6 separate regions of the Homo sapiens genome follow, and regions 2, 3, 4, 5 and 6 are each linked to region 1. Evidence: fine-mapped QTL for protein levels in blood plasma. A gene starts in region 1. Each other region holds a variant in brackets. All regions are shown on one strand. Distances are between the middles of the regions.

What was found. A credible set is the group of variants that fine-mapping cannot tell apart. PIP is the chance, under the fine-mapping model, that this variant and not a neighbour inherited with it causes the effect. The UK Biobank Pharma Proteomics Project read protein levels with antibody pairs (Olink). The fine-mapping took linkage between variants from a reference panel, not from the people measured, so its PIPs are less certain.
Region 2: its variant is the best candidate, but not a certain one, in a credible set for the plasma level of the GFRAL protein (UK Biobank, PIP 0.59).
Region 3: its variant is the best candidate, but not a certain one, in a credible set for the plasma level of the GFRAL protein (UK Biobank, PIP 0.75).
Region 4: its variant is the best candidate, but not a certain one, in a credible set for the plasma level of the GFRAL protein (UK Biobank, PIP 0.71).
Region 5: its variant is the best candidate, but not a certain one, in a credible set for the plasma level of the GFRAL protein (UK Biobank, PIP 0.90).
Region 6: its variant is the best candidate, but not a certain one, in a credible set for the plasma level of the GFRAL protein (UK Biobank, PIP 0.67).

The regions. Positions count from the first base shown.
Region 1 is chr6:55,324,223-55,329,763 of GRCh38, forward strand. It overlaps GFRAL (GDNF family receptor alpha like), which reads left to right and starts at 3,247. Exons shown (of 9, transcript NM_207410.2): 1 at 3,247-3,354. The coding sequence starts at 3,333.
Region 2 is chr6:55,549,719-55,555,259 of GRCh38, forward strand. The region is part of intron 1 of HMGCLL1 (3-hydroxy-3-methylglutaryl-CoA lyase like 1); the gene reads right to left. Among named protein-coding and RNA genes, the nearest start is that of HMGCLL1, 27 kb to the right of the region's middle. The variant A/G (reference allele first, on the strand shown) is at 2,210.
Region 3 is chr6:55,809,228-55,814,768 of GRCh38, forward strand. The region is part of intron 2 of BMP5 (bone morphogenetic protein 5); the gene reads right to left. Among named protein-coding and RNA genes, the nearest start is that of BMP5, 64 kb to the right of the region's middle. The variant C/T (reference allele first, on the strand shown) is at 2,596.
Region 4 is chr6:56,224,951-56,230,491 of GRCh38, forward strand. The region is part of intron 1 of COL21A1 (collagen type XXI alpha 1 chain); the gene reads right to left. Among named protein-coding and RNA genes, the nearest start is that of COL21A1, 20 kb to the right of the region's middle. The variant G/T (reference allele first, on the strand shown) is at 3,248.
Region 5 is chr6:55,440,095-55,445,635 of GRCh38, forward strand. The region is part of intron 7 of HMGCLL1 (3-hydroxy-3-methylglutaryl-CoA lyase like 1); the gene reads right to left. Among named protein-coding and RNA genes, the nearest start is that of GFRAL, 120 kb to the left of the region's middle. The variant T/G (reference allele first, on the strand shown) is at 2,398.
Region 6 is chr6:55,401,473-55,407,013 of GRCh38, forward strand. It overlaps GFRAL (GDNF family receptor alpha like), which reads left to right. Exons shown (of 9, transcript NM_207410.2): 9 at 318-1,021. The coding sequence ends at 381. Among named protein-coding and RNA genes, the nearest start is that of GFRAL, 77 kb to the left of the region's middle. The variant A/C (reference allele first, on the strand shown) is at 2,507.

The sequences.
Region 1 (5,541 bases):
ATGTATGTATTCTTTTCAGAATGTCAATTTTAGGTTGGCTAGAGCTGAACAGACTCCTCCAGACAGTAGCATGCTACAAAAGTTTTAAGTAGACAAATATAGTGGTAATGCAAAGGTGATTGGAGGAAGTCGAATGTCACTGAACAAAAGCTTTAAACAACTTTATGTTCCAAAAAGAAGTGCCCTTGAATATGAAGTTTTTTTCACTGATTTATCATAGAGTTTTATTTAACAATTTTTCTTTTTTCGCTTTTATATGTAGCTTAATTTGCATTCTAGTTTATCCAATTCATGCAACTAGTGTCTGTCCCTCATTTTTGTTTTTGTAGAGTCTTTGATACAAAAGTCTTTTAGTAAATATTACATGTCTTTTGCCAAGGTGTGAGGTCTAGTGCATTTAACTGTCATGAGAATGATACGTTAGCTAAAACAAAATTTATCAAAAAGCAATTACATAAATTTAGGGAATTTTGAATGGGAATTTCAGAGCCTTTGGGATGCTTCAGTAGCAGCTGTGAATGTGCTGGCAAAGCCCAATAAGTAGAGCTGAGGACTACTCATGAAAATTCCCACCGGAGCAGCTGTACTTTCTTCTGTTTCATTTATATATTACAACATTTTACTTGAAATGTAGAATACATTTTAAAATTAGGCACACATTATAATTAGAAACTATCAAAATTGATAATTCTATTTCTACAATGTTCTGATTCAATAGCAGCTTTCATTTAAATAATCGAGAGTATTATTTTCGTAGACATTAAATTTGGGTTTATGAATTTGAGGTTCTATAATTTGCTTGGGGTAAAATTGTGTTATCTTTTTACTAAACTCATTGAAATTCAGTACTTCCTGTGCTATCTTTGTCACTAATAGAAGTTACAGATATTTTTATATAACATTTTATTAGTGGAAGTTCTTTCAAATTAGGATCTGTGATAATCACTACACTGAAACAACAATATTTTTAGACTCACTTAGATCTTGATATTTCCTTCTGCAATGAGGAAGCATATGTATTACTTTATCACAAATTTAAAACATATTTTGACAAGTATATTTTAACATACTTAATTTCCTTTATGATCTTTAAAATTTTTTTTTGCCATGAAAATATTATCCTGAGAAGGAGTCTATACACAAAGAGGACTGATGGCTCAATGAACAGGCATTCAGTGGTAACACAGCTGATATTATTTTGTGTTGGATAAACAGCTATATGACCACAGGTGCTTTCTATACCTATAAGTTATAGACCGAAGCAGCTGTACTTGTCTGGCAAAGATTAGCACCATTCACAGGGTCTTATATTCAGGTTCTGTGGATCACTGCACTCTAGAAAGTCATAACTATATCGCCTTCCTTGAACAGAAAATTATGTTATTCTCTTCCTTTGTTTCATAAGTTTATTTTCCTTGTGGTTGCTCTTCTTAAACTCAGCACTTAGATACATTACTAAGCATGTGGTTTTTGCTGCCCCAAGATCCCTTCAGCTGCTTCTTCTAATACCATAATTTTCCTTCGTGATGCACACCTTCTGCACCATCAGATTCTGTGCTTTGAAAAGGGCCAACTACACTGACAACCTGTATCTATGATACTGGACATGGGGTAAGTTCCTTTTGTAAAATTGATTGGCACTTGACACATCTAGAACTGATGTGACTTAATTCTGCAACTTTAATAGTAAAAGAATGACACTTTCTACCCTGCTTTCTAAGAGAGAAGGATGTTTGCCAAGGGCTTCACAGCCATCTTCCCACCAGAAGGAAATAGCCTTTCTGGGAATAGAACTGGTAGAGAAGAATGCAGGTAAGAGACAGGAGGAAACAAACAACTTAGACCCAGAGAAAACAGTTTAAAACACACCTGAAATTAATTCTTCCCACGGACTCTTCAACTATGGTAGTAACCAACTCTGTCCTAGTTTAAGTCCTTTTAAGTTGGCTTATATCTAAGCTTGTCTTGGTAGAAGTCATTAGGAAAGTTTAGTGACTCAATCCCTTGAAAAGAAGAAAAGATTGATTAATTTTATGATATTATAATCCTTCTATTATGTAATAATTAAGTCAGTGAATGTAATATAATCAATTTTTTTGTGATATAAGCCCCTCATATACATACCTTATATTACAGCAAGAATTAATACAATTGACACATTTTACAAAGGAGTGAATAACTTCCAATGCTAAGTCACTCATCTAGATCTATAGAGAAAAGCAGTGTTATAATTTTTGTTTGTTGGACTCTAGAGTCTGTGTTTTTTCATTATGCCTGCTGAAAACAAAATATAGTATAACTTCTCTACTGGTATAAAATAAACATGAACAATATGCAATCAAAAACTCAATGGTGTAACTGCACAAATACTTCTCTCCCATCCCTATCTCTTCTTAATTTCTTGCCAAAGCAGCATTTTATTTTTTAAGCATTCATTCTAGAAAGGCCTCCAGGTGATTTAGAAATAGAAGTCTCATGACACCCCAAGAAAGATGATGTGCTGTAGGTTTACATGAGGAAGGGCGTAGCCAAACCAAGGCATAAGATAAATAAGTCCCTTCATTGAAACTAGGAAAAAAAATAGTTGTCAAGTGATGCACACAAATGTAGATGATTATCTTTCCAGTGGAACATAGAATTTCTGCATCACTGAGAAGAGTATGTTTTTTACACTGTAGCTGTACTTGGAAGGTATCAGATACTGTAGCTGAAGTGGCATAATTTTTAAGCATACTGGGGTTTGTGGCACATGTAATACAACATTCTTTGTTTGGGAAGCAGCTTCCCAGTATGTTTGAGTTATATCAGGCTAATTCTAGTAGAACTTCGATTTTGCATACATTTTCCAGGGCTATTATGCGTTTTTAGCTTTTCTATATCCTCAAATGACATGAAATTGCCTTAATGAGGCTAATTAAACAAGTGGAGACTGAGTATGCTCAAGTGTCTTTGAAAATTTTGGGTCATATTTGGGAGGCTTTTACGTAGTGTTGTATTTTAGTTAAGGAAAATAAACCTTTTTCATGAACGTGCAGATTATGTATCATTTCTCTTAGTATTTGGCTCATGGGCTTTCTTAGAGGCATAATATCCTAATATTCAAGACCAGCACCCTCAGGAGAATAATCGAATTTGAATATAATTAGAACAGTTCACAACTTAGGAAACACTGGGGAGGAAATGATGATATAGGAAGCTGACTTGAATTGGTAATGCCTTTAGGAAGCAAACACAGAGGCTGAAGCCTTATTCTGGACAGTTACTCTTAAGAAAGTTGTCAGAAGAAACGCATCTGCCTTTTTTTCCAGGTGAACTGCCGTGAGTTGTCCAGCATGATAGTGTTTATTTTCTTGGGTAAGTGAATGGTGCTTCTGGTTTATCTGAATTATTCATAATACTAATTCTTTGTAAACTGAATACCATCACACTTAAGCTTAACAGGGGCTTATAATATGAAGTACCAAGTAAATTACAAATTTATGCTTTAACATGGTTTATTCTTCTTGCAAAAATGTACACTCACTTTTACTCACTTATTTCTAACTCTATAGATAATGCAGCATGTGAAAATTGTATTAATCTCTCAGCTTGTTTCTGTTTTATTGTATAGAATGACCCAATGACTTTGAGTTACTTATTAGGATTAATGGAATTCACACATGTGTTAGAACCTTTTAGAAATAAAAATAAAACCTTCCAGTATCTATTTACAAGTTATAAGATGAAAAATTTCAAACTGTTATCTATTTTATTTATTTTGCTTTGAAATTAAACAAAAATAAGATTAATTTAAAACATTCAATTTACCTACAGTGTTAATATTTGCTAACTAGAAGTAATTTAGTGAAGTAAAACCACTTAACACCATATCAGAATGCTTCATATTTTCATTAATTTTTATGACCTAGAACTCAAGTGTGGACTTACTTCTCTTGTATTGGATCCGATGAATGTATTATAAGATGTTGATGAAAAATAATTTATTTTTATTTAATGTAGAATCCATGAATCTATTTGCTAGATGTGTGACTGGAGAATATTTTATATCTTCTTTAGCATTTGGTAGAATCTATAAACTGAATTCAGAAAAGGAATAATTGTAACTGTAGCTAGATTGTAATTTTAAAAATATGGCATTTTATGTTTAAGCTAATATATACTTGAATAAAGGCATAATTATGGGCCAGAAAGCAAAGAAGTTTACTTTAAATTGTATCGAACATAAAAGGAGAGTCATATCAAGTCAAGGAAACAAGTTAAGAAGGAGAGAAATCCCTTATATTTTCAGTTTTTCTTTTGTTTAAGTAATATTTTTCCATTGTTCCATAATTTTGCTTTTTGTAATTATTCCTAAAATATTTTCTTATTTTTATAAAGATTGTTAATATTTCTTTAGTTCTTTTTTGTGATAAAGAGAAATATAGGAAACTTTAATTTTTATAGATCAGGCAGCAATATAATGAAGCTCACAAAATACATTACAGACTCATTATGACCTCAGTTGAAAAGGCAATGGCCTCTTATTTTCATCTTTTACTTCTAAATTAACTTGACACCAGGTTGCATGAAGGAGGGAAATAACTTCTTAACATTGTTAGAACTAAAATTATACTATTTGATATGTTGTACCAACATTTCCCATATTATATTTTTTAGAATGCTTGTTTGACATTATCTAAATAGGTCTTATAATGAGGAAAATGTCTGTTGGTAAAGAAATGTGGAAAACAATGAATTTTAAAATCTCAGAACATTTAGTAGGATAATAAGCCCCATACATCTTTAAAACACTGATATAATTTGCAGCATTATCCATCTTATTAATTTAAAAATAGAAGTTATTTTTCATTGAGTATTACAGGAAAATTCTTGAAAAATCCTAGGTTAAATACAAAACCACAAGTCATAGTTTGGAATGAATAAGACAGATTTTGGAGAGGTAATACATTCTTGATTCTTGTGGACCAAATCATTGAGGTGGTTTTCTTAGTTGAGTCAATATTTTGTTGAGTAGGAAGTGTGGAAAATCCTATAAAATAATCTATTAAGAAGCTTGTTCAACCAAAAACTGAAAATGTGAAAGGAAGTAAAACATTAAAAACTGAAAATGTGAAAGGAAGTAAAACATATTTGGGGAAGACAACATGTAGTATTTCTAAGTGATTATTACTCTGAAGTACTGATGAAGTTTTGATGATATATCTGGGATATTATCACTTATAAGATTCTTGAAGGGGCTTTTCACAAGATATAATGATTAATGGCAAATAAAATACCATTTTCTTATAAGTTGAGTTTATGACTTCAAATTTCTATTTCTGGGTCTTTGGAAAACTGGATTTGACCAAGTAAATTTGTGCTAGGATCAAAAGAGTCCTCTTTTTCTTTCTTTGGGCTAGCCAAATAAGGAGTACAAGGGCTTGGCTAGATGAGGTTGTCCATGAACACATGAGAAAACAGAAAGCTGATATGTCCATTTCCACTCCAGCCCTCAGCAAGAAAAATGTTACCAAGCTACACCCATGGGCCTAATCTCCAAAT
Region 2 (5,541 bases), 230 kb after region 1:
TTTTAATTGAGGCTGTTATTATTTATAAAAAGCAATCAAATTTCATTACTTTTTTTTTGTTATGCCATATTGATTATATAACAATGTCAAATTGGGAAATCACATCAGTGATGTGCTATGAGTTTTCAGCTTTATAATACACTCTATTAAGCACAGTAAGACTACTCAGTCATCCACACAGTCATCAACCCAAATCCATTCAAACTTCAAATAAAAATTTTCAGATATTAATGAAACTTCCATCAAAATACAGCTTTATGTAATGTTTCTTTTCTGATTGGCAAAAATAAAAATGAGCATTTGCGTGACTACAGACACACAACAAAAATTCTCAGAAAACAACAATCTATGGTCCCTTATACTTCTTGATATGTGAACAGTGTTTTATATTTGTTGGAGATGAATTATTGAGTGCTAAAGGTGGCAGAAGGGGTTGAGAAAAATGTTACCATATCCTAGTGAAGTTAGGTGAAATCTATACCTTTGGAAATTTTTATTTCTGATTAATAGACTACAGCGGATGTTGTGAGATGTTGCTCAGGTACTCCTAGGGTGGAGAAATTCTCAGAAACTAAAGTTTTGGCAGCTGATGGCATTTCACTGGGCCCCTTTTCTGTAATCACCCTCAGCTACAGCGCCACTTTATCCAAGGTCATGCCCCCATCCTAACTGGAAAGGCCATATCAGCTCCTGGGATTCCTGTGTGACTCACTGAAGCCTCTGTTGTGAGTACATCATAGTTCAACTTATTCTTCTACCTAGTTTTATATCCTTTACTTCCCCACAGTTATTGAATCCAATGGCAATAACGTCCCGCAAACAAATCCTTGTCCAGGAGACTGTTCCCAGGGAACCAGACCTAAGAAAATTAGTGCCAGGAGTGAACTGAGGAAGTGGTCTCCAAAATGGGATTTGGGAGCTAGATGAGTTGCTGGTTAATTTTCAGTTATTTCATATTCTTCGAAGTAGGTGGGATATTGCTACTCCCTGGCAACCTGCAGCAGTGTAATTATTAACATATTCACTCGTTCTCATTCAGGACAATTTTGCACCCCAAGGGACACCCGGCAATGTCTGGAGAAATTTTGGTTGTCAAAATTGCTGGGCACTACTGGCATCTAGTAGGGTAAAAATCTTACAATGCACAAGACAGGACTCCACAACAAAGAAGACATCCAAAATCCATAGTGTTAAGGTTAAGCCATCCTGACCTATACAATAAAAATTAATGAAGGCTATAGCTCATCAATTAGCTTTGGTTAGCTGCTTCAATGTAAAAGTCATGATCCCTTGCCTAGTCTATACATCTTAGCCAATTTTCAGACCAAAAAAAAAAAAATAAACCACAAGTGACTGAAGCAGCAGCCAGATGTTTATGATGAGGACCTTGTAATACTAAGAGAACTATATAAAGTAATTCATATAATCTTTCCCCAAAGAGATCTATAGGCATTCATTTGAGTAAATTTACACTGGGTAAAGAAGAATACCAAAAATTTCAGATTCTTGGATACAAGGTTCAATTTGACAATGACACTTGGAGACCCAAAGTATCATTATATCCCCATTGTTAAAATGAGAAATAGGAGGACCGCATAATAAGTGGAGTCCTGGGTCCTTATTCCCTGTGGTTATTTCTCAGTCCCTGAGTATATAATTGGAAATAACATATTTAGTATTAGGAACAGGCCTTACTGCATCTTAGTTCCTTGACTTGTAATGTAAGAGCTATTGTAACAAGGAAGGGCAAGTAGAAGCTTCTGAAATCTCTCCCTCCTCTCCTTCAGCTGAAATAGTAAAAAAAGAAAAAGAAGAGGAAGGGAAAGGAGGGGGAGGAGAAGAAGAAAGCATATTAGGTGAGCCAGCAGAGATTATTACCATCCTCAAGAATCTAAAGAAAGTAAAAGATACAGGGGTGATGGCCTCATCAGCAACCCCCTCTAATCACCAGTACAGCCTCTACCCAAACCAGAAAGATGTTATGATTTTGGAGGATGACACTAAGCTACCATAAATAAACCCCAATTGTAGCTTCTGTCCCAGTTGCAGTATTTTTGCAAAAGCAAATTAACACTGCCTTATTTAAATGGTATGCAGCCTCCAATGGATGAAAGCTTTCTTTTCTGTACCTGAAAGAAAAAACAGCATTAAAATTCCAATTTGCTTGGGACAGACAACAGCAGATTTTATAGAATTCTCTCAGTGCTAT[A/G]TTCATTCACCTATTGTCTGTCATAATATATTTCAAAGGGACCTGAAATAGCTGGACATTCTGCAGAACATCACATTGATCCACTGTATCAAGACTAACCAAAGTTCTAACTATATGAAAGGAAACTCAATTAAAATGAATTAATAAATTATAAAAGTAATTTAAGGGGCATTTTAAAAAAATGCAGGGATCCAAAAACAAACAAACACACACAAAAAAGATAAATGATTGCTGAATACTCATTACAGAATCTAAAGTCTCAAATAGACAACCCCGTAGTGATCTATCTCTGTAGGGCATATACATGTAGCATAGAGATTTAAAATCCTAAACATGAATGCTACCAGTCCTCCATTTCAAACTCGGGACAGACAATAGTAATTCAATATGGCAGTTTTTCACAATGAGTACAGGTGCATCTTCTAGGCATTCTCAATAGAGCTACCTACTCCAGTATCTGCTATCCAGGTAGAAACTATTATCTAAATTCAGGTATCTACTATCAATGATTGACTCTATTCTGCAATAAAAAATATATTTTCCATCCCTAGTATAGTGAAAAATTCTATTACCACTCTGTACCTCATTTACTCATCTATAAAAAATGGAGGTTACAATAGCTAAAAAGAGTTGTGGTAAAGCCACATATAGTGCTGTATGTATATATGTGATGACCATTATACAAATAATAGGTACAGAAAATTATTTTTTGTTTATTTATTCATCCACTTACTACTGAGTGGACATTTAATGTGTGTAGGACCCTGTGCTAGAATTTGGTCAAAGAAAGCCTATTTGGATACAGAGACTAATTTTGAAGGAGATACCCTAGTTAAAATATTCCTAAAATAAAGCATTAGTTTATTTAGCAGCTGTGTTTCCAATAGCTCTACTGAAGGAAATCTTACAAAAGTTTTAAAAATGATGGTATATGCCGGGCGTGGTGGCTCACACCTGTAATCCCAGCAATTTGGGAGGCCAAGGCGGCTGGATCACCTGAGGTCAAGAGTTCAAGACCAGCCTGGCTAACATGGTGCAACCCCGTTTCTACTAAAAATACAAAAAATTAGCTGGTCACTGTGGCACGTGCCTGTAATCCCAGCTACTCAGGAGGCTTAGGCAGGAGAATCACTTGAATCCGGGAGGAGAAGATTGCAGTGAGCCGAGATCGTGCCATTGCACTCCAGCCTGGGCAACAAGAGCAAAACTCCATCTCTCTCTCTCTCTCTCTCTATATATATATATATACATACACACACACACACACACACACACATACACACACATATATGTATATATATACATGTATTTACATATATACGTGTGTGTGTGTGTGTGTGTGTATGTATGTATGTATGTAACTAGCAGGGCATGGTGGTGCATGCCTGTAATCCCAGCTACTCGGGAGGTTGAGGCAGGAGAATTGCTTGAACCCAGGAGGCGGAGGTTGTGGTGAATCGAAATCAGGCCACCAAACTCCAGCCTGGGTGACAGAAGGAGACTCCGTCTCCAAAGAAAAAAAAATGATGGTATAGTAGGGCATCCAGACTGGTGATGAAAAACTCTAGAGACAAACAATCTAGCTCTATCATGTACTGATGAGAAAACATGAGAAAATAATGTAGTCTTCCTCATTCTCCTCTGTTAAAAGTGGGAATAATAATAGCATTTAGCCCATAAGTCTGTTTTAAGGATTAAATGAGAATGTGTATATAAAGCATTAGCACATTGATGAGTTAATACTTCATCAATGTTTGTTGCTTCCCTTTTTGTAAGGCTAACTTGAAGACATGGGACATTTTTTTCTGATATTTTGCAAAAATGGTAACTTAAATTATTCCATTTATCATTTTAAAATATAACTACTTGTTTAAAATTTGCAATGAAAGGAATCATTGTTGATAGTAGAGCAGATTACCTTACACAGCTCTTGCCACAATCAAAATAATACCTGGAAATTATTCAAGTTCTTTCAGCAAGGAGCTCAAAACACTTTGGAGACATTATCCCATTTTGGAACCTGCCAACATTTTTATCCACCTCCAGTGCTGACAACATCAACTCCACCCATCCTGTTCCACTTGGCAATGTCAACCTCAGTTTGAACCTTTGAGAGGCAACAGAGGGGCACTCACTTCAACATGAGGATAAATGAGAGCTCGTATTCAAAACCTGGCTCAATAATGCCATAAGTGAATACAGGGGGCACAGCTAGTTACTTGTTAGAAATGTTTTCATGGAAAAAAATACTAATGTAAAAAGCAAATTAAATACATTAATAATTCTGATTGGCATCATATGCTTAGAGGCAAGAGTATCAAAAAAGTCCTATCTTCTTCACAAGCTAGGCTTTAATTTCTTCTTTCACCCCAGGGAGTTTCTTTGTAACTTCAAAACATAGTTTTGGGGTGTAAAAAGATCTAAAATTTTTTAAATTGTGGATCCACTTGCAGAATATGGAGCTGGCAGATGAATAGTTAGACATTCACATCACAGGATAAGGTTTGAATTGACCTACACCCTCAAGCAAAAGAGACTTCACGATTCCTTTAAGCAACCCAGTTATTCATTTAGCCATCATTCTTGGGGTACATTAGTGATTCTAATTGCCACTATAGTTAATTCAATGAAAAAAACTTGACATCAAAATGTATCAGAATTTTCAGAAACCATAATATTTGGGACATTCAAATTATAAGGGCAATGAAATATGCTGAGAACAATCCAAGCAGTAGAGGGGGACTTAGGCATTTAGAGGAAGCTATGCCAATACACAGGACCCCTTTAGGCACCATGGCCAGGGAAGGGGTCCTCCTTGCCCAGGTCTAAGGCGTTTGTTCTAAAACTGATACTTAATCCATTCCTCTACATTCTGTTCTCCCACAGACTTCCTGTTCTTTGGAAATACACATGAACTCATCTTTGATTCCTCTCTTCTTCTCATACCCTATATCAGATCTATCAGCAGATCATGTTCTATCTTTAAAATAATTATTTCTTACTTGGATAACTGCAAGAACATTATAAGCAATCTCTCTACTTCCACTCTTGCCACCTCCTCTGCAAGGCAGAAAGCAGCCTTCCTAATACTTTGAAAACATCAACTAAATCACATCACTTCTCTGTTCAATATCCTCTATAACTTTCCATTTCCCTCAGAGAAAAATCCAAAGTCTTTGCCATGGCCCTGGAGGCCCCATGAACTTACATCTTACCACCTTTATGATGCCTTCTCCCACTCATCCTTTGCCTCTGTTGAAGCCACACTGAATTATTTGCCATTTCTTGAACACCTGAGCATTTGCATTTGCCCCTGTTGGACTGTTCTTCCC
Region 3 (5,541 bases), 490 kb after region 1:
TATAATTGCTACTTTCTTAACAAACTACATGTATAGTGTGTAAATGTATATGAGTTGTATGCATTATTCTTGCATCCAACTCATTATAGTCAGAAGTGATTTATGCAATTACAAATGTAAAAGTTATTTAACAACCTGTACTTAGAAACTTTGGAAATAGAAATTTATTCATCTTCTTTAACTTTAGGAATATTTTTGATACATAATCCATAATAAAACCACCTCTCAGTTCTACTGGAGAAAAAAATGGGTTGAAAACTTATAAAAAATAAGTAAAATCATTTATATAATCAAGAAGAAGAGATAAGAAAAGGAATATTAACCCTGGTTGTGGTTGTGGTTTCAATTACATGAATATATGTATATGTGTGTATGCATGCATATATTATATACATATATATATGGAGAGAGAAAGAGAGAGAAAAAGGATACTTAACCAAGAGGATAGCCACATATTTTTTATATTCAAAGAGAAACAAAAAGGAGAAACCAATAGGATAGCCACTCTACTATCTAATCATGAAGCACTTAAACCTGGTCCAGAAAAGCTTTAAGAAATTATCTAGAAGCTACACAGACAAATTTTAGAGGAAAGGATGCCACACTACTTTATTTTCATAAAGTACAAAACTTGTAGTCCACAACGACATCTCCACTTTTCCCAAAGCTTCTATTATTATAACTATTTCACTTTCTTCCATCTCCTTTTTTCCTTGAATAGCTTATCAAGTCCAATAAAAATATAATGATGGCCACCCAAGGAGAAAGCATACATCTCTCTCTGGGTATTTGTCATAAATACCATCATATTATTCAAGAGACTACAAATTAATAATGGTAAATTCTAGAGTTTATAAGGTTCAAAGTTTCCCTCATCAGCAGCTTTTAGCTTATATGGGCTAGAATTTGAATTGGGTTTCAATTCAAATTGATCAATGTTTTCAAATGGTAAATCGCTTTTTTTCCCCAAAATAAATGTGGGATTATACAATTCTATAAATCTTACTAACCATTAATTTTCAGAATATCTAATTCCATGCTGCATTTAAAAGGTACAGATGAAAACTGGTAAAATAGTAATATTAGATGCAATTGAATGAAAAGCATGGCAGAAATGAAAAAAAGTTGGAATCTCACTAAGAAAATTTAATCACTTTTCACTGAGCAGAATTTTTTTAATTGCCAAGACATTTTTAATATTTAGTAGGTTTCCTGGCATTACATCATCTCACATTTTTCCCCTGCAGAGAAATTTAAACATGTGCTACCAGGTATACACCCAGGAGGTCCCCTCATTCAACAAGCAAAAAGGACATGAGGCTATTACACAGACAGTTCAACCATTTTTCATGCAGTGAATGAGCAATGTACCCAGTACAAACTCCTAAGAGCTCTTTCATCTTATGAGTCTTATGATCCAAAATATTAAATGGTCAAAGCAAAATTCACTGACATATTAGCTTATGGCACAAACTATTTCCACTTTAGGTTTATATCTTAAATCTTCAAATAGAGCAAGATTTCTCAACCTTGGTACCAAGGACATTTTGGATCAAAGCACTCTGTGAGGCAGAGGAGCTGTCCTGTCCATTTTAGAAGGTTTAGCAGCATTCCTACCCACATTACTACTCCAGCATATCTACGCACTAAATGCTAGTAACAATACACACACATACCTGCCCCCTATCAATTGTGGATGACAAAATAAAGTGTTTCCATACATTGCTAAATGTCTCCTAGGGACCAAAATCACCCCAGGTAAGAACCTCTAAAATAGAGCATGATCCCCACACACTGAAGATATGCAAGCTATGCTTGTGTACCGTTCTAGACACTTTAGAAACATAATCTCCCATCTGAGTGTCCTGTTCTGGCACCCTGCTCTCAAGAGCCCAGGAAATCTTCCTGAGTGGAAAATGTCAGAGTACCTTCTGAAGTATGTCCGCAGAAGAATCACAAATCTTAGAGAAGAAGGAGGCAGGGGGAGATGATGTAAATATGAAGCTGACTGTGAACTGGAATGATGACAGCTTAACTATATATATCCAAGTACTGAAGGTGGCTAATGACATCGAGCAGGCTAGCTTAAAATGTTTTCACAATGGAGTACAGAAATTTATATTCATAGCAGAGCATTAGGAAAAGGTTGATTCTACATAGCACATTTTCTTTAGGGAATACATAAATATATATATTTGTGAAAAAATTAATTCAAGTAAAGCACTTAGCACAGCGCCAGACACATGGTGAGTGTCCATTAAATGTGTAAGTGCTGGATGCTATTCTTATTAGTAGTAACACTGGCATTGATCATTTTATTGTATTAATTTAATTCATTATACGCTTGAACTTTTTTATACACTTAAACATTTTAGTGCTTAGGAACATTTCTTCTGGCATACACCTCTGCCCTCTCTCTCTCTGTCTCTCTCTCTCTCCCTCCTTCCCTCTCTCTTTCTCCCTCTCTCTCTCTTTCTCTCTCTCTCTCCCTATTCTTTCCCCATTTGTTGTTTTGCCTATGGAAACTTCCTACTCTTCTTGAAAAGTTCAGCTCAATAGTGAACTCCTCTCAGAGGCTTTCCCTAAGGTCCCTTA[C/T]CCTTCCAAGTAAAAAATTAACTTTCTCTTCATTTCTATTTCCACAACACTTAGTGCATATTTACATCATCGTTCTTAGCACATTGTATTATAGTTATTAAAGTCTGTGTGTGGCAGCCCCACCACAGTCCCTGGCCTCCAGGCTATGAGCTTCTGAGGCCCTATTTACTCGGCCTTATGTCCTCTGTGCTTGCCACATGGTAGACGCTCAACAAAAGCACTCCAAGCTCAGCTGAATTATCTGGAAAATTCAATCATGTGGAAACCTCCTTTCCCAATAATGCCAGATATATGAGGTGTGACTATAGAGCAATGCCTTCTATATAGAATTTGGGGCTGTCAGCCTTATATGAAAAGATTAAATAAGTGAAATGATGCAAAGTGTGTTAACTTTTTACCAAGTAAAATATAGATTTGGATAAGTATCAGAACACTCCTTTAAATTACACACATTTAAATATGAGTAGGGATAAATTGGGAAGGTGGGAGAAATGGTAGGAATAAAATATATAATTTTAAGAGCTATAAGTCTCACTAAGATAAATAAATAAGAAAAGAGGTGACATAATGGATCTACCATATTTTAAATTTGATTGCATAACACTGTCAAATAATTCATAGATTAGATGGTTAATAGGTCAGACTGTGTCTTGAATATAAAACATATCCATAAAACATCAGTCCAAATTACTGTACAGATCTCCCTTACCCAGCCAGTCCTAGGCAGTATCTTAGGGAAAGGAAACTTTACATATGTGAAAACATATATGCATTGTCAAATAAATTACATTAAAGAGTACAGTCTGCCCTGACTTTTCAATTGTTTCTGAGTTTAACTGAAAATACGAAGTAGATAAAACCCACAACTTTGACACAGAAGTTTTGAGAGGTGACTCTGCTTTAAAAATAGCCAGAGGTACTAGTTCCTTTTTCTACTTCCACTTTAGTTCTTTAAGAAGTATATGAAGCCACAAATAATCAATAGTTAAAACAATTAATAGGATTTTAAAATTACTTTTCAAATTGAAATTCCATTTTAACTGTGATCATGTGATATGTAAATAAAGTATTTTTAATGCAATACTTGTCTCAGAGAATTAAAGTCAAAGTTCCAAAGTTGTGGTAACTATTTTCCAAAAAATATTTACTCTTCTCAGAGAATTCTCAGAGAATTAAAGTCAAAGTTCCAAAGCAGTGGTAAATTTTTTCGAAAAATAAAAAAGATACTATTTATCTTCATTTCCTATGAGAAAAAAATACCTTCCATGGCTTAAGAAAAAATGAGAGCAACTGATTTTTAAATCCTAGTGTTTTTTGTTTTGTTTTGTTTTGATTTTTTACTCTCTATACCTGGCAGAAGTTGGGAATGCTATTTTGTAAAGATGTGTGTAGCATAAAATCATTTCATTACCTTTTTTCTCTCAACTATAATTATTCACATTGCTGTTTATACCAATAATGTTCATCATAAAAATTTTAAAAACACAGAAAGTGTTGAAGAATTAAAATGTAAATTACCCACAGCCTGCAATGAATATTTGATGGGTTCCTTCAATCTGTTTTATATATAAATTTATTTAAAATAGTATAATAATGTATATAATAATGTTTCTTGGTTTGGGTCAATTAACATTATTATTTGAGCATTTTTCAGTGTTAGTAAATAGTTTTCAAAAATGTAATTTGGCCGGGCGCGGTGGCTCACACCTGTAATCCCAGCACTTTTGGGGGCCGAGGCGGGCGGATCACGAGGTCAGGAGACTGAAACCATCCTGGCTAACGGTGAAACCCCGTCTCTACTAAAAATACAAAAAATTAGCCAGGCGTGGTGGCAGGCGCCTGTAGTCCCAGCTACTAGGGAGGCTGAGGCAGGAGAACAGCGTGAACCAGGGAGACGGAGCTTGCAGTGAGCAGAGATTGCGCCACTGCACTCCAGCCTGGATGAAAGAGCGAGACACCGTCTCAAAAAAAAAAAAAAAGGTAATATGTGTTTTCTCTGTGCTATTTTTCCAAAAATTATACCTTAACTTTTTTCTTGTTTAATTATGTTCAATTTGTGAATTGTAAGCAATAATACAGCGATAAACACTTTTACATGAATCCGTCTACATCTGTCTATATCTGCAATGTTTCTGTAAGATAAATTCATAAATAAGAGCTCTCTCATCCCACACTACCCTTTCCCCATACTTCTCAAATGTATTTTAAAGAGTTTGACTATTTATCTAAAACTTGTGTTTTCAGCTATTATTCACAGAAAGATTCAATGATATTGCTATTAAATTGGGTGGCATTTATTTTATTATTACACTTCAAAACCTACCGATTTATTTTTCATATATTAAATTATGTAATAAAACTAATTATTTATTAAATAAAGACACCTAGAACATTTTACTTACTTTATCTTTACATAAAGGTAGGTGTCAGAAAACTGTACCTACTGTTATTATAATAAAAAACAATTTTTTGCCATTATGTATATAGTTCTGTAAACTAACATAGATGCTCATATGAAGTTATATGAAAATATATTGATGAATGTATTTATTATCAACTATGATCTTTGCATTGGGATATGCATTAGCCCTTCCCACATCATCTGAAATTATTTTTCTTGATCTGAAATACTTTTTCATCTGTTTTTTATTTTTTCAGATTTGCAAACTGAGACTCCAAGAAATATAGAAATTTCCCTATTTGGGAATTTCAAGTCTATGCTCTTATGGCACTATATTATTATTTTCTGTGGTGACTTTAAAGTCCTTCATAGAAACCTGAAATATTCTATAAGACATATCGCTATTTCTATGTGTTCTTTCCCTTAAACATCTTTCTTTGGAAGAAAAGGGGGAGTACAGAAAGTGAATCCTGCATCTATAGGTAATAACACGGCACAGAATTGCATTTTCTTACAATGCAGAATAATGAACTTCTGTCAATGAA
Region 4 (5,541 bases), 900 kb after region 1:
GCAAGATACCATGCATGCAGTGTAAATTGTAACATAAAACTAAAATGTAATAAACAGGGAAAGAAAAACAAAATTCTGACCCTCCAGGAAAAAAAAGTCAGAAAAGATTGCCCTTTTCTCAAATTCTAAAAAATGATCACTTTAACCACTAAATTAGTTTAAACACCACTGACTCCTCCAAAGCCACAAATTTTAAATTTTTCCCCACAAAGCCTTAAAACATTTCATTTTCCTTTGACATTATGCAAGTTACAATAAGATTTCTACTAAAGCAAACAACTGCCCCTGTACTCAACAATCATTTCTTTAAATCTTTTTGAAACCCCCCAAGCTATCAAGAAACTAACCACTAGGTCAACTGGTCTTCATTCATTCCAACACCTGCTGCTGAGTGATAGAATGACTCAAAATTTCTGAACTCTTTTAGAGCTTCACTTTGAGTGGGCTACTACTCACTCCTCAGTAAGGAAACTTGAAAGCCTTAAGTAGCTAAGTTCTCTACTCTAGCCCAGACAGAATCTATGGTAGCTAGTGGAATGAAGGCAACAAAAATGTACTTGACAGCAGAGACCTGGTATTTGGCTGCCTACAGGTTGCCACTTGGGCAAATTTTCAGCTTGTTCCTGTCCAAAGGATGTGCTATTTTCAGGTACTCAATGAAAAATAATCTACATCAGAAAATAATCTGATGAGAACTTTGGCATAAAAACAAAAGGATTCCAAATTTTAAACATATTCATGGCCTTTAATTTTTTTAGTCTTTTTAAAATTTAATTACTTTAAAAAGACAAGAAACACAATAATTACGGGAACAAAAAAGAGTATTTTGAAATTAAGTTTGAGTAATTCTAGAATGGCAGAAGGTAAAATTAGACACAGCTAGTCACCCAAGTGCCTGAGATGTCTTACCATTCCTATGTGATGGTCTTCCTGTGGGCTTTGTTTCCTGGGTAGGAGATCCCTGGAAGCATACAGTGTTTAAATAGATTAATCACAGAGCATCCTGTCTTCATTGTGGTGTACATGTTTCTGGAAGTTACAAAGAGTATTATGCCTGCATTTCATGATGTCCTTTTCTCACCTTATTTCAAATATTCTTCCCAAGAATAAGAGTACAAATAGTACATAGAATTGTTTAAAGAATCCAAATATCTTGACTTTTTCTTTTCAAATCTAATTTTAGGAATGTTACCAATTGTTAATTCATTTAACATCAGGGAGAAAAATAAGTGTAGGGCATAGCCGAATTACCTACAGGGTAGCTTTTACAGTCAGGTGTATACCAAAAAAAGTCACTTTGCTTTCTTCACCTGGAAATATAGGAATGTTATATCATTCCTTTCTAGAAAGAAGAGCAAAGTAACTTTTTACAAAATGTTCCTCGTTATTTAATGTATATGAACACATCTACTAATGATTCTACTGTAACTTTCAAGAGATAGATATTTGTCCCTCTTCCTCATAATCCCAGAGGGAAAAGGTAACTATCATGAAACATTTTTAAAAGCTTTATATATTATATCAATATAAAATAAACCAGTTCCTCCATTATATTAATGGTATCTGGCTTTTCAAGACAGAATTCACTAAGGATGTTGAAAATATAAACCACACACCAAAATGTTAGACTTCCATTTGGAGGCCAAAGCTAACTGGCAAGCCTAATTTGAGTCACACTGTGAAACCCCATTTTCCTAACTTAATTTATCTTGAATTGTTTGTGTGATGGTGTTGTTTGGTTTGCTTTTATGGTGCAATGCACTGGTATCTTCAGCACTGCAGTTTATATGAAAATCCAATGTTCCTCACTTCCATAAAAAACAGTGCAAGGTGATAAAACTAAATTAGGGAAGAGTTATGTTGTTATGACAATGAAACTTTCGAAGAGACTATCAAACTTTGAAAACAGGTCACTGAGAAGAATTAAGAAATACTTTCTTTGGATTTTTTTTAAGTAGATAAGATTCCCATCTCTGTGGGATGGCTCGTATAGGGGGAGCCCACAAACAGTATAATGGACTTTGAATCGCCCAAGTTATTTTCCAAACTTAAAATGGTGCCATGACAGGTCCTCAAACGAACTAAGAGAGCAACTTTCTCAATAAGTAAAAGCAGGATACAGTTCCAGATCATGAAAACTCTGCAATGCTGGTTTTGTGACCTTGACTCAGCGTCACTGGGATGCTACCAAGAAACCACAATTCTTGGCAGCTGCACATTCAATGTACAAATGTTTACCAGATGTGAAGTTCATATGATCTATGCTGTATAATAGAAACAAAAATGAATGTGCTGTGTAATATGACATGCTAGTTCATGCTGTGAGCCAGCAAGCAAGAAAACTGGTCTCATATCTAGACAAAGCCTATGGACTATTTGGAGTAAAGAGAAAACCTCTAAGTCCCACCTCCAATCCCCAATTAAAACAAATCCCATACGCTTGTTAAGCCTGTGGGAAATTCTACTAAGTAAGGTTCCTTTCTTTAGATTAAGCATTCCATCCTTGTTCAATAAAAACCCCCTTGGGAGACATAAATTTTTATCAGTTATTACACTTCAGAGTAAATGAACTTCAGATCCTGTCTTGACAGTTGGTTCTGATATGAAAAATACATGAAGCTTGGTTGTTTAGATTGTAAAAGAAAGAATCATCAAGAGATAAAATTTAATACATATTTTCCCACTACTATTTGTCTGTTTATCCATTCATTCCACAATATGCACAGTCATCTACTATTATTCAGGCAATGTACAAAGCACTGAGGATACACAGATGAGAAAGCCTAGTGATAGCCTCAGCAAGTATAGGGTTTTTGTGAAAAGATATCAAATATATAACTACAATACAATAATAGAGACCTTAATGGAGGTATGTGCTAGGCACTGGGAGCTTGGTGGAGTGAATACCTAGTTCCTGGCTGGCTGAGAGGAAATGGGTACATTCTCTGAGAGGAAGTAAAGTTCATCTGTGAATTAAAGGCAAACCAGGGATTTGCTAGATGACCTTAAGAAGACAGGAAGATAGTACCTGAAAATGCTTAAAATCACTAAAGAACAAGATGTGCTCAGTGAAAAGGTATTTATGAAGTGAACCGCCCATGGAGAGTGGGAAAGGGGTGAGGGGTGAAGGAAATGAATGATGGGGCAGGTACTCAGGAAACAGAGCAGGAACATGGTCTTTTGCATTAAGTGAAGAGGAGTGGACTTTGTCTTTAAAGTTTACTACAGGAGGGATTTTTAGCAGAGA[G/T]AAACATATTCTTGTTCACATTTTAGAAAGCTCACAATGGCAGCAGTAGGGAGAATGGTGTACAGGAAGATGGAAAGTTTATGGCAGCAGTCAAATGAGAGGCAGTAAGGGCCTGAAGGACAGTGAGAGCAGAAAGTGATTTGAGAGGCATTCAGGAGTTAAAACGGGCCAGGTCCTATGACTGTTTGATTGCAGTGGACAGGAGAAAGAGAATGACCCCAGCCTCTGGCTTGAACGTCTTGTAGATAGTGATGTCTTTCCCTGAAAGAATTCAGGAAATATAAACCAAATTTTCCTGCTAGAGGGTAGAGGAGAAGAAATATAAAGCATCTTAGTTTTTAGAAAATTAAGCACAAATTTCATGTATGGACATGAAATGGTTCATACATGAAATTTGTGCTTAATTTTCTAAAAAAGTATGGACAGATGAAAATGCTTACTTGACAGGTGAATATATAGACCCCCTGTGTGCCAGGATTTGAGTAATGGGGAGATGCAACTGACGCTAAGCAGAGTGAGTGGACATGGATTCTGGTCTGGCTTACTGTTTGCTTTTGAGTGTCAAGGGTGAGATTTTTAGTCCATTAAAACTCCTTGTATGGAATAAAACAAATGACTAAAGTACAAGAATAACTAAGTAATTGCTGGTTCATCCATATGATGGAGTACTACAGAGGCATAAAATTCAAATGTTCCAAGAATACTTAATGACAATTTTAAAAATATCAATAAAAGAACAAATGCAAAAAAATGCAAAACTATATAGTAAGCTAATTATGTGATATTATATCTCTTTCATAGAAATGTCAAAAATTGTTACTTCCAGATAATAGCATTATGGATATGTAATTTTTATTTTTTGATGCTTTCCAACTTTTCTATAAAGGATATGCATTATTTTGGCTGGGTATGATGGCTCACACCTGGAATCTCAGCACTTTAGAAGGCTGAGGCAGGAGAATTGCTTGAGATCAGGAGTTCAAGCCCAGCCTGGGCAATACAGAGAAACCCTGTCTCTACAAAAAAAAATTTTTTTTAATTAGCTGAGCATGGTGGCTCATGCCTGTAGTCCTGGATACTCAGGAGCCTGAGAGGACAGAACCATTGAGCCCAGGAGTTTGAATTGCACTGCTGCACTTTAGCCTGGCCAATAGAGAGAGACCCTGTCTCAAAAACAACAGAATATGCATTATTTTAAAATCAGAAATAATAAACATATTTTTAAACTTACATATGTTTTAGATAAAGTTAATATCTCGAAAGGAGACTCTGCTCCACCAGCAAAACACATAATTGAATTATCGTACACTAACCACAAGAGGTTAGATTATGCTGAGTAACAAATATATCCAAAAATTGTTGTGCCTTATAACAACAAACATTTATTTTTTGCTCATACTCTACGTCCACTATGAGCTGTCTAGTGGCTCTGCTCCACATTCCTCATTTTAGGATTGAGTCTGAGGAGTATGGTCATTTTCCAAGGTAAGGGTAAAGAGCTCTGGAGGTTCTCACACTGAAAATAAATGTTCCAGTGCAGAAATATATGTTAATTTCCACTCAGCTCGTTGGCCATGAGTATCATGGGGCCAGAAAACGTAATCTGACTGTGTACCTGAAATTTATTTGACAAACAGAACTAATAAGAATCTCCTATAAGTACAAATTCATCCCCTCCACCACCACCACCAGCAGCAACAAAAAACTGGAGGGATTTTTATGGTAGTGTTTTTTAAAATGCAAATCACGATCCATTGGTTGATCTTGAAATCAACTCAGTGGTCTATGACCAACAGTGTTTAATAGAATGGAAGGGAACAGAAAATGTCAGAGCACATTGCATGTACAAAAGGTAAATATTATGATATATTTGGTATACATATTTCGAATAAATACAGATGTGTCACAATGTAAAATTTATTTCTTCCTGTGGGTCCTGTAAAAAAAATTGAAAGTCATTTTTCTATAGGAGTCCCAACTAAGCCAGATATATGGAAACATAACAATTTCCATACTAGGTTTTTCTAGTCCAGTGTCCTATGACTCTGTGAAAGGCTGGGGGAATCTTGTATCAATCTCAAAGAACTCAGTCAACATTTTACTCTTTTTTAATAGTACGGTCTCTCAATGATAAATCAGTCAAGAAATATCATAAAGCAAACTCAATGTTTAGCATCCTTCAAGTGCTAAGAGTATAATTACATTTTATTTCTCCTAAAATAAAAAAAGTCAAGTTTCCAAAGTTTTTCTTAATTCCGTACAGCCTCATTTTATTTTTTTAAGGAAAAGATATA
Region 5 (5,541 bases), 120 kb after region 1:
ACACAAAACTCCACTACTTTGGGAGAAGGAAGAAATATTTAAGAGACAAAACACTTGCCACCAGCAGTAACGCCAGCTTACATTATTGGTTCCTCACTAAGTGCTGGATGCTGTTATTAACAAATTATGTGTATTAATTCACAATTCTCCCCAAAATCCATGAAGTAGATACTCTTGTATCATCCCCAGTTCTCAGAAAGAAAACTCAGGTACAGAGGGAATAAACAATTTACCCAAGGTCACTATCTGGTAGGTGAAATCTTCTGTCTCCAGGGAATCTACACTCTGCTTTGATTTATAGCCTCTGGAAACATGAGATTTGGTACATGATTATGCACTTGGGGATATCAGAGGTGGAAGAGCTCTCTGTGTACCGGAGAAGTTATGGAAGACATGAGTACAACAGGGTCTGAGAAGGGCCCCGGAGTTCAAATGTTAATAATATGAGAAGAACAGAGGCAGGCATGCCATTCCTCTGTGAAAGGTAACAATTCGGTAATCAGAAGATACAGTAAAGCCTAATCCGATTCTTCACTCTTGGGCATTAAAGAAAAAGTAACATGATCACATTTAAAATGAGAAGCACCTGGAAGCAGAGCTCTTTCCAACCAACTATATCATGTTTCTCAATCACAGGTTACTGCTACATTCCCTGAGTTTTTGACTCAGAAGGTCTGGGCTGCGACTTGAGAATTTTAAATTTTGACAAGATTCTGACAGCTGCTGCTCATGTGGGAATCTCTTTCTCCCTTCCTTCCTGCCTTCCTTCCCTTCTTTACTTTTTTGATAAACTTTTAATTTTAAAATAGTTTTTGATTTTCACAAAATTTGTGAAGATAAAACAGAATTCCTATATATTGCACACTCAGTTTTCTCTATGGTTAACATCTGTTACAGAAAACATTATTCAATGATACTTATTAAAGCACAGCAAGGATGAATTTATTTAGGAACATTGCAGTAGGTACAGGGACCACATGCAATGCAGGAGAGAGAGACTGTGCTGAAATCCAAATACAGCATGGGCAAGTGAGAATTTATAGCCAAGGAGTGGGGTGGGGGTCAGTGGATTAAAAATTACTAGGAGAAAACATCAGGAGTGAAAGGAATTCTGGCTAAACTGACCTACCAGGATTTTTGCAGAAGACAGGATAGGGTGATCAGACATGACCTTCGGGTTGGTAGAGGAGGAGAGACCTAATCAGATCGGGCATTTGGATATTGACTATAGGGGTTCTTGTTAAGCTAATTTAGTAGGAATTGCTAAAACTGGATTTTACAAGGAAATGAAGAGGTGGGCTTAGGAGAAGTTTTAGAAATCTGACTGAAGTTTGGCTTCTTTGTCAGATCTTATTATGGTATATTTGTCATAACTAAAGAACACATGTTGGCAAGTTTTTATTAAAATCCATGCAATATTTAGATTTCTTTAGACTTTTAAAATGACATTTCTAAAGACATTTTTAAACTGGTGTCTTTTATCTGTTCTGGGAGCTCACCAGTATACCACATTAGTAGTCAGGTATCCTTAGCCTCCTATGGGCTGTGACAGTTTCTCCGAACTATTTTGAGTAGTATAAGTCATGTTTTTGTTTTGTTTTATTTTGTTTTTTTGAGATGGAGTCTTGCTCGGTTAGCCAGGCTGGAGTGCAGTGGTGTTATCTCGGCCCACTGCAACCTCTGCTTCCTGGGTTCAAGCGATTCTCTTGCCTCAGCCTCCTGAGTAGCTGGGATTATAGGTGCGCACAATCACACCTGGCTAATTTTTGTGTTTTTAGTAGAGACAGGGTTTCACTATGTTGGCCAGGCTGGCCTCAAACTCCTAACCTCAAGTGATCCCCCCTCCTCAGCCTCCCAAAGTGCTCGTCATGTATTTTGTACATTGTCCTTCAACTTGGGTTTGTCTAAGTTTTTCTCCTGTTAAGACTGGAGTTATAGAGTTTTGGGAGAAGACCACAGAGGTAAAGTGTCATCCTGAAAGCATTATATCAAGGATATATAATATCAATATAAATTATGACGGCTGGTATTAACTTTTCTTGTCTGGCTGAGGTGGTGTCTGCCAGGTATCTGCACTATAAAGTCTCCCCACAGTCTTTCTGTATTGTACGTTTTGGAAAAATGTCACTATGCGTAGCTCACACTTAAAGAATGGGGAGTATCTACACAAAAATTTTGAATTCTTCTGTATGGAAAATTTGTCCATTCTCATTTATTTACTTATTCTAACATGTATTTATATTAGGGAGGACTCATAGCTAATTATAGGTAATTATTTTGCACTTTGGGTTATAACGTAATACCAATTTATGTCTTTTGTTGCTCAAACTGTTCAACATTTGGCCATTGGGAGCTCTCTCACTTGGCTCCTGTGTCCTTTAGGCATGCCAAAGGGAC[T/G]GTGGGTTTTCAACCACTTGCCTAGAGTTTCCTTTGCAAGACTGAAAAGGATACTTACAAAATCTCACAAAGGAAGAACTACAGTCCTTAAAAAGCCTTAGAATTCTTTGGGACCTAAGGAAAGTTTACAAAGGATAGACTGTTTCTCTACCTCCATTTCTTCTTCTTATACTCTCCAACATGAGAAGGTCTCTATTGCTTTCTTTCCATTACCACAACATTTCTCACATAATGATCTGACAAGCTTAGTCATATTCAGCAGTAAAATACTGGTACCTTTAGGACAATTTTCATTTACTATGAATCAAAGCAGTAAGAATGGGGAATTATACTTTAGAAGTGAAATTTGTGGCATTGTTCAGTACTTGGAAAAGACAAATATTAAGATGTTGACCCGTCTCTGGGAGTCTGCCATGATATAAACAGGCAGGGGCATTTCTTTACTTATAGGTTAAAACTGATCTATTCAGTGGATCTGAATGTATCAGTTTAGGAGTCAGAAATTTCCATTATTCTCAATCCTGTCAACCCATTGGAATCACCTGGAGCCCTTTTCAAATGACTAATGTCTAAGCTTCTCCCTAAATTAATCAAACCAGAATCATCTCTGTCCTAGAATCTCCTCTTATCCAGTGATTCTCAAATCCCTAAAGTAGAGTTTCTTATCTATCTCACCCTTTATCAATCCGGGGTATGGGTCAGCTTTAACTTTAGAGAAACTTTGTACCCTGGGGCAGCAAACAGTTAACCAGGACTGGTCAGCATTTCAAGAAAAGCAGGTTTTGAAAAAATACCCAAAAAAGTATAAAGTAGCAAAAGTCAGAGGAATCAGCCGGATAGATGAGAAATGGCTTCAGCCCGAAATGTGGATGATTCACTTCTGGGATCTGGAATCCACGTATCATGTTCCTTTTCTCGCTACTGAGGATCAAGACCCTGCAACTACAGGAGTCCCAGAAGGGAAACTTGTTACCTTGTCAAAACAACAGTTTTTAGTCTTAATTGGCCTTTTGGGAAAGAGTGAGGAAACAACAGTCATTCTTCTATTTTGTAACTAAAGGCCAATGTAACCTATTGCTTGGGCAAGAGTGAAAGATTTATTTACAATAGAGAAACCAGTATTACCACAGAGGAACAATAAATGACCAATGTCACACTAGAGCAAATATAAATAACCAGTGAAGCCAAAAAAAAAAAAGTTCAACCTCACATTAAATCAAAGATTGTGCGTGAAAACTGTAACACTGTATTTTATACTTTCAGACTGACAACAATTAAAAAAGAATACTGGCATTGAAATAGTATAATATAGAGCTCAAATATATAAAACACTCTACAACTTCAACAACATGGACTAATTTCACAAACACAAGGTTGCTTGAAAAAAGTCAGGCTCAAAAGAAGACATACGTCATTTCATTTAGATAAAGTCCTAAAATAGACCACACTAATCAAAGCAGTGAGAGGTTAATAATTATCTTTGAAGTGTGAATATAAATAGACACAAGGAGAGCTTCGAGGGTGCTGGTAATAAATTTCTTGAACTGAGTTGATTACATTGATAGTATCAGTTTGTGAAAATTCATTGAGCTTATAATTTGTACACATTTCCATATATACATTATAGTTCAATAAATATCAATGACAAAGGGAGTGTTATTGGAACTGAAGGTAAACAGTCAAACCTAAATGAGTAGGAATATACAGTTAATTGGAATTCTTTGGGTGAGCAATTATTTAGTAATAAGTCTTCACTCGTCAATATTCTTTGTCCCAACAGTTCCTTATCAAAGAGTCCTTTCTAGAAATATTTAACAAATCCTAGAAAATAACTAGATAAAAATAAATACATATGGGTGACGTATATTGTATCTTGGTTTTGTATAGGATATATAACACACACACATATATCTATATAAAGACTCATCACAGTATGTTTTTTAAGAATGAAAATTTGAGAACCATCCAAATGTCTCACAATGGAGAATAGCTTTATGGTGTAGCTAGAAAACAAAATGATGATGCTATTTAACTGCATGATTAAGGGAAAAACAGGTTAGAAGATGTTATAACAGTACATAGAGTCATGACACAATTTTCTAAAAGCAAAAAGGATTTGGGAGATATATAAAGTGCTAATGGTAATGATCATGGGTGCTATGATTACAGATAAATTATTTTACTTTAATTCTGTTTTCCAATGCCTCCACAATGAATGTTAATTACCTACCTAAGTAGAAAAAGTAAAATATAAAAGTTTTTGGAAATTTTAACCTGTAGTAAAATGACTGTAAATAAGTGAAAATGAATGTAAATAAATCCAAGACTGAATTTATTCATATTTTGCAATAATGGATCTTTCTAGGATCTAAGACTACAGGACTAATCTGCAAACATACTCTGGCGAAGGCAGACATAATCTGAGTAAAAGAGGACTTGTAAAATGGTCTTTCTGATTTTCTAGTACCAGATTAGCTCTAGACACAGATTCTCTTTCAGTAAGCTCTATTCACAAATTAATTGACTCAGTTCTAAATGCAATATGTGGATTTAAAGTTTAAGCAATTTTAAAGAGTTTATTCAAGGATATATGACCTATAAAGGAGAATATTAAGGCATCAATTCCCTTTAAAGTCTCTCTTTTTAAAAAAATCACAGTACTTTAAAAATATTTTAATACAATTTCCCCTAAATTCTCTACTTTATTAAGTGTGTAATTTTCTTCTCAGAAATAAAAATTTTCTCAATGATACTGTTATCCTTATACTAAATTATATGCTCGTTTTTCTAAACGAGCTGCTTTGGAAATTTCTAGTCATAATCTTCTAAGAAAATTTTATTTCACTATGTATGTTTTCTTCACATCTACTACCTTATTTCATCAGAAATAATTTTAATATGATGTAAACAAGCTCTGAAAAAAACTAGGAAGAAAAACATTATTTCTTTTTATTATTAGTTCTTTATTATAAAGAGTGGAAAGACATTTTTACTTAACCATTGAAATCATATCATTGTGTGTTTGAAAATAATAGACAGGCCACTTAGCTAATTTTCCTATATGAGAGACTTTCGGCATTAAAGGATTACTCTTGGAAAGATGTTCCATTTCTCTCCTTTTCAAGCACAGTCACTACTTTCAGA
Region 6 (5,541 bases), 77 kb after region 1:
TAGTTGCATTTGTTTCATGTTATGCTATATTCAAATAGCCCAGAGCCTTCAAAGAAGTTTGCAGAGAAACAACTAAAAATTTAAATATTTACAAAAAGAAAGGACTTTTTAAAAAATGATTACTTGGACATCATAGTTAAAGGTGTGATGCTCCCTAGAAAGAAAATATGATATTTTACTATTGGGACTTTACATTCTGGAACTTGATTAGTTTTTTCCTCCAGGTGCAGACTCCAGCAAAAATGCAAACACACACAAGCACATTTGTGAAATCCTTAAAATGGCATGTTGTTAACTTTTACTTTTATTTTATACAGAACTTCCAGAATATCAAGTAAAGCAAGAGATCCTTCATCGATCCAAATACCTGGAGAACTCTGATTCATTAGGAGTCATGGACCTATAACAATCACTCTTTTCTCTGCTTTTCTTCTTTCCTCTTTTCTTCTCTCCTCTCCTCTCCTCTCTTCTCCTCTCCTCCCCTCCCCTCTCTGTTTCTTTTTCTTTTTCTTTTCTTTTTTGTGGCGGAGTTTTGCTCTTGTTGCCCAGGCTGCAGTACAATGGCTCAATCTCGGTTCACTGCAACCTCTGCCTCCAAGGTTCAAGTGATTTTCCTGCCTCAGCCTTCCCGAGTAGCTGGGATTACAGGTACCCGCCACCACGCCCAGCTAATTTTTTTGTATTTTTAGTAGAGATGGGGTTTTGCCAAATTGGCCAGGGTGGTCTCAAACTCCTGACCTCAGGTGATCCACCCACCTCGGCCTCCCAAAGTGCTGGGATTACAGGCGTGAGCAACCACGTCAAGACAACAATCACTTTCTTTAAAGCAAATCCTACAGCTGGTCAACACCCTATTCCATCTGTCATCGAGAAAGAAAATGTTAAAATAGACTTAAAAATATTGCTTTGTTACATATAATAATATGGCATGATGATGTTATTTTTTTCTTAATACTCAAGAAAAAATATATGGTGGTATCTTTTACAACACTGGAACAGAAATAAAGTTTCCCTTGAAGGCAAAAAGTGTTATCCCAAGTCACATTTTGCATAATTTGCTTTATGATGAATATAAACACATATCATATTAATTATTTGCATCATAATATGACATAGTTAGCAGTTTTTCTGATCAATTACATAAGTTCCCATTAACTTGCCAAAAAAAGTTAATATATATATCCAGTGTCTGTGTTATTGGTATATTTTCGACCATTTTGAAATCAGTCATTAACGTATTAGCATTGACTTTAAGTTCCTATATATATTTGATTAAATGAAAGCCTTAAAAAATTGGAAGTGACATGTTTGAATTTTGTAATTTGAATACTATTGAATTTTACTTTTTGACCTTGATATCTCATTTTATTCCCATAAAATGTAAAACAACTACACTGGCTGAAAGAAAGTCAATGTGCGCTTCAATAATCATAGATTTTTGTGAATTAAATCTTTCTAGGCTAATTATGAGGAACTTCTGCAATAATAAAGTAACACCATAATTGTTACTTTTTATAATATTCCTATACTGTGACTTTTGGCCTGGTTTGACATCAGAGTATAATTGTGATTAGAAAATTGTAGAAAATATGTTCATTAGTTAGAATTTTAATACATATTTGCTTTTCAACCGCCTGCAATTACACTAGTACCTATTACTCATAATAACCATGAGGTTGTATTATCTATAGTGGCACAGAGGCACAAATATTCAATAACCTGAGGATATCATACTAACCGTGGCATATTTACAATTAAAATTCAAATATTTTCTGCTCATTTGGTCTCATTTCTATTGCTATTCACTACACTTCAGATTAAACTGTCTACATTAAATTAAATTTGGAGTTAACATTTGGCTATGTTTACTCAAAGTAATTGAGAAGCCATCGTTTATCTTTTAAAACAGAGAAGAATAAATTGATGAGTCACAGATGTTTCTCAAGGAGTTCTATATATTCCAGTGGCTAATGCAGAGTATTAACATGAAGAGAATGCAGGGATTTCCTTCTCCAAATCACTGCCATTTAATTTAGGCTTGGTAATGTCTGGGAAAATGCAAACTGTTCTCTGGAAAACTGAGAAAAGAAGTCAAGTTCCTTCTAGAAACATGCTTGTGTTGAGCAGAGAAGGGGAGAACAGAGTGTAAAATGGATGGCTTCCCTAGGAAACAGAATCTTGTCTCTTAGGACAGCAGGAATAAGTAGGCAAAACCACAGAAGGGGGAATCAGCATGAAGCATTTAGGGAACACTAAATAGTCACCTATCTCTAGAGCAGAGAGTCCAAATTGAGAAAGTGTAGGACATACAGCTAGTAAACATCAGGACTAAGACACTGAGATACCAGGCTAAGGAGACACCTATAAAAGTGGAGTGTGGGCCTCATAGGACATGGTCCCCATATTCGTTGTCTTCTTTTACTCTTCAGTCCTCTGGGAAGCCTTTCCTAACATTTTCTTCCCTGTAGTTCAAAGATTCTTGTTCAGTGCTTCCCAGCACCCGGTG[A/C]TCCCCCATCTTAGACTATTACACTTCACTGCCGCAGCTTCGTTTATTATTTTTGCTTAGTAAATTGTAAGCACCCTGATTGAGTCTGTTGGCTCATCTTTGTTTTCTATTCCTTAGCACATAGTGTATGCTCAATAAATAAGTGTTCAGTGACAGAATTGCTTCATTTGGAATCCTACAAAGTGCTGCAAAATAATTTTAAGCAGATTTTTGAATAAAAAAAGTTATGCTAGCAGACATAGAAATGGACTATAAAGGACTAAAACTGATGCTGAAGAGACTGCTTTAAAGTGTAACTAAATTAGTTAGCTAATAAGTATTGGAAGCCTGCACTAATTTATTCATTCAATACTTATTTATCAAGCATATACTATGTATCAGCCACTGTACTAGGAACTGGAGATACAATCCTGAGCACAGTCTTCCAGTAAATTTGAAAAACAAAGTAAACAAGGTAATTTTTGAAAGTGATAGATGCCATAAAGAAGTGAACAGGCTGCAGTGATGGTAGAGTGATGTGAAGAGAAAAATTAGCAGTGATGTGAGAGAATGGAAGGCACTTCACAAATCTCACAATTTAGAATCAATGGAAACTTGGGGTCAGATATTTGTATGAGTTGAGATTGTAAGGATCATGGTAAGAATGAGTGTTGAGTATATTTTGATTTGTGCCATTAGGTAAACCGTGTTGCCAATTAGAAAACTGGCTCATACAAGTGGAACTTGGAATGGGAAAGGGGAATATGCTAGTTATTTTAGGGTCTGTTCCAATTTTCCTCCACCTCTCATACACCCCTAGGAGGCTGACATATATGCAACATAGTCCCCTTTGTCCTCTGGCTTCCATTTGGTTGTCGATAGTGAGAAATGGTAGAAAATGGGGGAGAAATTCTCCTGGACTCCTTGCTGAGATGTCCCCACAGGCTGGCTGTTTCCTTCAATTGTTTCTATCAGTGTGGCCTTTTCTACACACATCTTTCCTGGATGGCAATAAACCTTTCCAGGCCTTCTCCCTGCAGGCTTAGTGGTGTTAACAGCTCAGTCAGTGCCATTCCTGAGTTACTGGACTATGCCTTGAGGTTTTTCAACTACCTACACCTGTATAAAGAGTACCTAAATCAAGCATTCTTAAGAGTCATCCAATTTCAGATAACTTGCAGTTTATTCTAATTGGAGTATCCCATCTGCTTCCTGTTGGTTCCCTGACTGACACTGGTAAATATTTCAAGTTTAGATCAATTGACTTCCTAACACCAGTGACATATCCATGTGGAGTCACCTAATAGTCAACTGGAAAATATGATTTTGGCACTGGTAAGTGGGATCAAGCTAGAACAATTAAATTTCAAGATGTCCAATATCTTCCTTACATCTCTCTCACCCCAGATGAGAAAGCAAATTTACCCTTGTGATTTCTAGGGGGAAAAATGCTGTAGGATAGGATAGCCAGATCACCAGGTGGCACAGATCACAGACCTCCCCGCAGAATAATTTGACCACTGATTAAATTCCCTCCAGAGTAGTCTCTTTCCTAATAAGTTTTTGTACCCCTAGCTGCTTCTGCATATTTACCCACAGCCTCTTTTCCTTCACAGAATCCTTTCCATAAAACCCACAGGTGTTCCTGGGACCCGGGAGTCAGCCGAGCTGTACAAGCTGGAACTCTGCAAGGTGAGTCAGAAAGGTCTCTCTGGAAAGGGCTTTAGGGCAGTAGGAAAACAGGGACTTTGTGGTTACTCCAAAGCTGAGGCTTGCGTCTGTTCCTACTTTTGAATTCCCTGTGAGAGTCCTGAGAAACAGATCTTGGGGTTATTAAAACATGCATCCTTTTTCATTGCCATGTACAGTGAAATGAATACAAATGACTTGAGTGAATAGAATATTTTTTTATTTTTTAGAATAAAAATATTCTAAATTTTTCAAATTGTGAGCTCAACAAATGCAGGAGTCAAATCTGAGTGACTAATGGTCAAACGATGGCACCACCGCTTTAAAGGCAGTGCCGGGTTGGCATGTACCCTGTATGAACCAACAGTGCAATTTTTACATATCCCTGTCTGCTTGCTCTGTTCTTTCACAACGTGTTCCCCCTCAGAACTCTGAGATGAATACCATCTGGGCTGCAATGATTTACTGCACTGGAGTTTCTCAAGTTGTTCCCAAAGTGCCTCTTTGAGGCTTCAATGTCTATTCAGACCACACTGATTGCACCCCAAAACTTAGGGTAGTAGAATTGGTGTTTCCAAAACCTTAGACAAGTCAATTGCAATAAATGTATCTTTAATAAGGGTTTCCATAATACAGTTGTTTATAATCTTGGTTCTACTAAGAAGGAAACATGCCTTTAAAACACAGTGGTTTAAAATTAAATTTTGGCAATATTGTCAGATTCAAATATTTATTTAGGGTGGCAAACAGTCAAACAAAATTACATTAAAATATTTTTGAGATTTCACTTGATTTTTCTAATGTAAGTTACATTGCTGGTTTTGCAGAAGTTACATGACTGGTTTTGCAGAAGGTCATTATATTTTTATAATGGTCAGTATAATTAAATGCTTAGTGAATGCTTAATTCCATGTGTTACATTCTTTTTTTTTTTTTTTGAGACGGAGTCTTGCTCTGTTGCCCAGGCTGGAGTGCAGTGGTGCAATCTTGGCTCACTGCAACCTCCGCCTCCCGGGTTCAAGCGATTCTCCTGCCTCAGCCTCCTGAGTAGCTGGGATTACTTACAGGTGCCCGCCACCACGCCTGGCTAATTTTTGTATTTTTAGTAGAGATGGGGTTTCACCATATTGGCCAGGCTGGTCTCGAACTCCTGACCTCATGATCCACCCACCTCGGCCTCCCAAAGTCCTAGGATTACAAGCTTGAGCCACCACGCCTGGCCACATTCTTTCAATACTTGGAAACAAATGTAATTTTTACTCTTCTGCCTGAAAATTCTAATTTAGTGAGTATTGAAGATACTATGCCTCTTAAGAGTAGCAGAAGGTATTAAAAAGGAAATGTAAACATAAGAAAAGGAGTAGTCA